Regions from separate parts of the Homo sapiens genome. Here region 2 is linked to region 1. The links come from fine-mapping of genetic effects on gene expression. A gene starts in region 1. The other region holds a variant in brackets. All regions are shown on one strand. Distances are from middle to middle.

Region 1 (2,906 bases):
CGCGAAATACAGATGCGGGTGGGAGCTGGCGCGTGCTGCCTGGAGGTGTACCTGCCCCCTAAGGTCCCCTATTGATAGGATCGCTTTTAAATTGGAAGTGGGAACGTAACGGAAACGTCCACTCTGTTCTTGCCATCTTCCTTTTGACCTTTTTACCTCGCTTTGGTGGCTGTGAAATATTCCCGCGCAGGAGCTGGAGCGGGGAGGAGTGGGGCAGAGCACGGGAGGCACAGAAGAAATTGTCCCCGAGGAAGGCAGAGTGGGGGCGTGGCCCCAGGCTTCCAGAACCCCGAACCTTTGTCTTCTTGCCCCCTCCTGCGTCGTCCACAGCTCAGAAGGAAGTCAGCGACCAGAAAGCCCTGAACGTCCTTCGCGCCCTCGCCCACCCCCGGGCTGGGTCTCCCCGCGGGCGCGGAGATGCCGTTACACCCCACGTGATCCCTGCGCCCGGCCAGTCCTTCCAGAGGCGTCTCGCGGGGTGTTAATTAAAGGTCACAACAAAACAGACCTGCTGGCTCACCAGAAGAAATGTCCTCCCGTGAAATGAAAAATGACACCCCAGAGCAGCCACGTGTGGAGCCTGGCATACGCCGGCTTCCTGCGCTCCTGGGCGCTGCGCCGGGGGACTGGGGCGGGGGGCGATCGGAGAGGGAGCGATGACGGGGTGCTCCGGAGACCCCGCGGGGCCCAGGCGCAGGAAGAAACGGGCGGCGGGGGGCGAGGGGCCCGATCCCACGCAAGGAGAGGCCAAGGCCAGCTCGCGCCACACCCCCTCTCCAGGCCAGAGTCGTCCGCGTGCAGCGCGGCGAAGCCCTCAGTTTCCCCTGCCCGGCAGCGGCCCGCTGGGTCACCAGGCTCACCTGTCCCAGCCCCGGGCGGCTTAGTCCATCACAGACCGGGGCTCGGGCGGGCGGGGGACCAAGGGCCCTAGTCCTGCGGCTGCGGTCGGGGAGGGTGGCCCCCCGGCCGGCCCGGGGTCGGTAGGGCAATTCCAGAAAAGGTTTGCCCGGCAGCTCTCCGAGAACAAAGGGCGGGGGGAGGACCCGGCATGTTTGTGGACTTGTTTGTGACTCAATCCCTTTTGCACGGCGTTTCACAGACAGACCTGCAAGCCTTGTCAGGAAGAGAAAGAACTTGGGGGCGGGGGAGGCTGGGGCACCGCATTTCCGTCCAGCCACGCTCGCTCGCGCGGCCCCCGGGCTCCAGGCTCGCGCAGCGGCGTTTCATTAGAGCCCCGGGCCCGGGCCGCGCGCCAGGAACTTCCCCGCACGCGGCGAGATCGACGATCCCCCGCCCCCAGCCCCAGCCCGGCTCCAGGCCTCGCAATGTCAGGCACGAGCGCCGCCACATAAAATGGATCCCGGCCGGCGCGGCGAGGGCGGCAGGTTCCCGAGGCTCCTCCGCGCTGCGCCCGGGCGCACACGCGCGCTGTGACCGCCGACCGCTCCCGGGCCACGCGGAGCCGCCCCTCTCCCGGCCCTCGCGCAACTGTCAGGCGAAACGGGCCGGCGGATATTGGCTCGGCGACACGCCGAGGCTCCTCCCCGAGTCTGGATCTTTATATTTTGGGAGAATTTCTTTGAACTCAGTTACCAAGCTCGGTGAAGGAGACAAGTTCCCACAGCTGACTCGGCTCGGCTCTCCCACCTTCCCGGCAGCGGCCGCGAGCCCTGATTGTATCCCTCGCTTTCCTCGTGGGGGAGCACGGACTGACTTGGCTGAAGAAAATGCCAGTTCTGTGGATGTGGCCGTGACAAGAGGACGTGCGGCTGGAAGAGGCAGAAGGGGACGAGGAAAAGCATGCTTTGAAGAGAAGAATAAACCAGCGACCCCAACCCTTTCTGCAAATTGGTGCTATTACTTGTGGGATCCATTTGCTTTCATTCCCTCCCACCCCACCGCTGAAGAAACCTTGCCCTGAGGGCTGAGAGCCAGCCCCCTGCAGCCGGGGGACGCTTCTGGGTTGGAGGACCTTCTGGATGTAGCGTCGGTGGAACCTTTAGATACTCTCCTCTGGAAAAGCCACCATGAATTCGGTAGCTGGGAATAAAGAGAGGCTTGCGGTCTCCACCAGGGGCAAGAAATACGGGGTAAGTTGTGACGGTACGACGCGGAGACGCGTTACCAGACCCATCTCGGCGGAGGTCCCCCTTTCCCCGGGATCGTGCGGCCCCGGCCCCGAGCTCTCCCCCGCTGCAGAGGCGCCCCCGGGGCTGGCGGGGTTGTGAGTGCGCGGAGGCGGGTCGGCCGCGGGGACGCCCGCACGCTCGCCTCGCTCTCGGAATTTTTTCAGCCCTCTCGTTCCTTCCTTTCCACGCACCCGTAACTTTTGCCGCATTCCTGCACTTCTAGGCAGAGTGAAGCCGAAGGGGAGGGTTTCCCATGAATGCTGGGCAGTACCTCGGATCGTTTAGCTGGAGCCGTGAGAGCCTCTCGTTTACCTGCAGGATCCGGAGAGTTGGACCCCGTATGAATAAAAATCCTGAAATCACAGCCCTCCCCCTACCCCCCCCATAGGGTCTTCCAGGATTTTGTTCCCGGGATCTTGCTGGGATAGGTGCCGGCTTCAAAAGCGTGGGGCGCTGAACCTATGGATCCCCCCCGCCTTGCAGAAGCCGTGGAAACGGCCCCGAGCGAGTCCCCTTCCTGACCCCAGGAGGAGGCCACCGGGGACCAGCGCAGGGGTCACCTGGGCGGTGGGGACTCACTTAAGGACAATTAACGAGACAGACGGAGGGCAATTTGGCCGCAGGGCTTGGAGAGGTCCCCAACCGACTCCCGTGGGCGGTTCGAGCGGGTACTTGGTGGCGCACGTATGACCCAGCTCCTGGGCGCTGCAGCCCGCCGCCTTGCAGCCCCTGACACCGGCGTGTCTTCCCCGCAGGTGAATGAAGTCTGCTCGCCCA
Region 2 (2,906 bases), 140 kb after region 1:
AAGACTGATGCCTGATGGGCATCAGTTTTTGTTTGTTTGTTTGTTTGTTTGTTTTTGAGACAGAGTCTTGCTCTGTTGCCCAGGCTGGAGTGCAGTGGTGTGATGTTGGCTCACTGCAACCTCCACCTCCCAGGTTCAAGTGATTCTCCTGCCTCAGCCTCCAAAGTAGCTGGGATTACAGGCTCCCACCACCACACCCAGCTGATTTTTGTATTTTTAGTAGAGACGGGCTCTCACCATGTTGGCCAGGCTGGTCTCAAACTCCTGACCTCAGGTGATCTGCCTGCCTCAGCCTCCCAAAGTGCTGGGATGACAGGCATGAGCCACCGCGCCCAGCCCTAATGTTCTAACTCATAAGGAAATTTTACCTTCATTCACTACGAGTAGGCTCATACTATACAAATATTAGTTTCTAGAGTCCATTGATGGATGAAGAGATAAACAAAATGTGGTCTATGCATACAATGGCATATTCTTCAGCGTGGAGAAAGAATGAAAGATACGTGCTATAGCGGTAACATGAACCTTGAAGACATTATGCCAAGTGAAATAAGCTAAACACAAAAGCACAAACATTGTATGGTTTTGCTCATGTGACAGGCAAAATCATAGAGAAAGAAAGTAGAATAGAGGTTGCCAGCAGCTAGAGGGAGGGAGAATGGGTGCCGAGTTTCAGTTTGGGAAAGTGAAAAAGTTCTGGGCATGGCGATTGGTGATGGTTGCAAAACAATGTATGAACCACTGCATTAATGTACTTCATGCTCTTGAATAGTACACCTAAAAATGGTTAAATTGATAACTCTCATGTTACATATACCACACAGAAAATTAGTTTTCAGAATAGCTGACAAGCTATGCTTAGATATGTCTTTAAGGCAGGAGGAAGATGGCAGTGGTCATAGCAGTGTGTGGAAAGCAGGAGAGACCCCACATGTCACCAATTAGCTCTCCAAATCCAGAAAACATCAGGGATGAACAGCCTCCGCTGCCCATGATCCGCGAGCTGTTTCGCTAGCATTCCGAACAATTCTGGCAAAGGCGGAAACACTGGACCAGGATCTGGGTGACTCTTTCACAGTTGATTGGGTAAGGAGAAG[C/T]GCTGTTCTCAGAGAAATGAGAACATGTGTCTTGGAAGGCTGCCTTTGCTTAATGTTCTACACGATCCAGGAGGCCAGATGGCATTTTATGTGGTTTTCACAACTGTGATTTTGGATTGATTACTAAACCTGTTTGTGTTCCTAACCCAGCTCGCTGCCTCCCGCCTGCCTTTTAGCTTAACGCTCATTCCCAGAGCTCAGTTTGAACAGGCGCATTGTTTTTATTCTGTTCCTTATTATTATTGCGTTGGTGCCAGCCTTTACTACCTTCAGCCCTATTTGCTGCCCAGAGTCTAGTGCAGAAAATGAAATCCTTTTTCCAATAAGTGTGATCAAATGAAAGGCTGTCACACTGCATTTACATCCAATTCTGGGTTTTTTTTTTTTTTTTTTTTTTTGAGTTTGGGTCGCCCACATGATGGGTTGTAAAAGGATAAAGGATAATTTCTGATGTCGTGCCAGCTTTTCCTCACCCAGCTGACCTTCTACTATCAGATGGTATTTTCATAGGAAAGGCAAATTAATTTTATATCTAATGTAAGAAAAACATTATTAGGAAGATTGTAATGAAAATTAAGTAGTTTGCAAAATGTTTTAGAATTTTCATATTACTTTTGCATAAAAAACTTCTTTCAGTTCTTACAACAGTCCTGAGACAGAGTTCAGCAGGTGTCCCCATCTCATGAGGAAACGGAGGCTCAGAGAAGTTAGGGGGCATGTCCAAGGTTGCCCAGCTAACATTGGTCAGAGCTGGATCTGGAGAGCTTATCTGCGGGGTCCACATCCAGAATGCTTTCTACCGTTCTGCTGTACCAGCTGGAAAACAAAATCCCATTCGAGTAAATAATATCAGCAATAGCCACCATTTTAAGCAACTTACCAGGCCATTTACTAAATAAGTCTCCTTGTACTGTAGTAACTCTCATGACTAAGGTCTGCAGACGACCCATTTAATAGGCTGGCAAAGTGAGTCAGAGATTGCGAGGAGAGGCTGAGAGCTTCCTGGGAACATCTCTGTTGATGTCTTGAACTGGGTTCCCATTGTTCCAGCAGGGAAACTGAGGATAGCAGACATTGCAAAATGTCCTTCTGTGAAGAGACTTCTAGTCGTTTTGGTGAAAACACAGTGTCCTGCTGCCTAGCTGAAATCCTGGTATGGATAAGTTTATCTTATCATCTTTCTATTTCTAGTACTTGGCCCAGATCGTGACCTAACAGCAACTATTTGTTGAGTGGAACCTCCAAAGATAGCAGTTTCTTCTTGTGGGGAATTACAGTCTATTGATTTGCTCAATGCAAGTTCATTTTATTAAGATTTCTTCACCTGTGTGTTTATATAAATAGACAGCCAGGCAGTGCATGAAAGTGGCTGCCCGGCCAGAGTCTGGCTGGGCTGCTTCGTTCTACTCTGGGGATTGGACCCAGTAGAATTCTTGGACTTGGTGTGGAGTCCCAGGTCAAGCCAACTCATTACTTCTACCTCTCCTTTTTAAAAAGGGTTTTCTGTCTTTGGTTCAAGTTCCTCTTAAAACACAATCATCATCCCTTCATTGATAGAGGCACAAATGAATTATTTTTTTTCTTTTTTCTTTTTTTTTTTTGAGGCAGAGTCTTGCTCTGTTGCCCAGGCTATAGTACGGTGGCACGATCTTGGCTCACTGCAACCTCTGCCTCCCGGGTTCAAGTGATTCTCCTGCCTCAGCCTCCTGAGTAGCTGGGATTACAGGTGTACACCACCACACCTGGCTAATTTTTGTGTTTTTAGTAGAGACGGGGTTTCGCCATATTGACCAGGCTGGTCTCGAGCTC

Direction of the effects. Alleles are on the strand shown, and positions count from the first base shown. SD is a standard deviation of normalised expression in the study named.
For the expression in thyroid of the gene that starts at base 1,588 in region 1, allele T in region 2 goes with a higher level than allele C (moderate effect, 0.44 SD a copy in GTEx).

Evidence for each region. PIP is the estimated chance that this variant, and not a neighbour inherited with it, causes the effect.
Region 2: its variant is fine-mapped to the expression of KIF26B in thyroid (GTEx, PIP above 0.99).

What each region holds. Positions count from the first base shown.
Region 1 is chr1:245,153,398-245,156,303 of GRCh38, forward strand. It overlaps KIF26B (kinesin family member 26B), which reads left to right and starts at 1,588. Exons shown (of 15, transcript NM_018012.4): 1 at 1,588-2,090; 2 at 2,885-2,906. The coding sequence starts at 2,028. RefSeq lists enhancers at 1-399, 400-1,075 and a silencer at 930-1,129.
Region 2 is chr1:245,297,849-245,300,754 of GRCh38, forward strand. The region is part of intron 2 of KIF26B (kinesin family member 26B); the gene reads left to right. Among named protein-coding and RNA genes, the nearest start is that of KIF26B-AS1, 65 kb to the left of the region's middle. The variant C/T (reference allele first, on the strand shown) is at 1,098.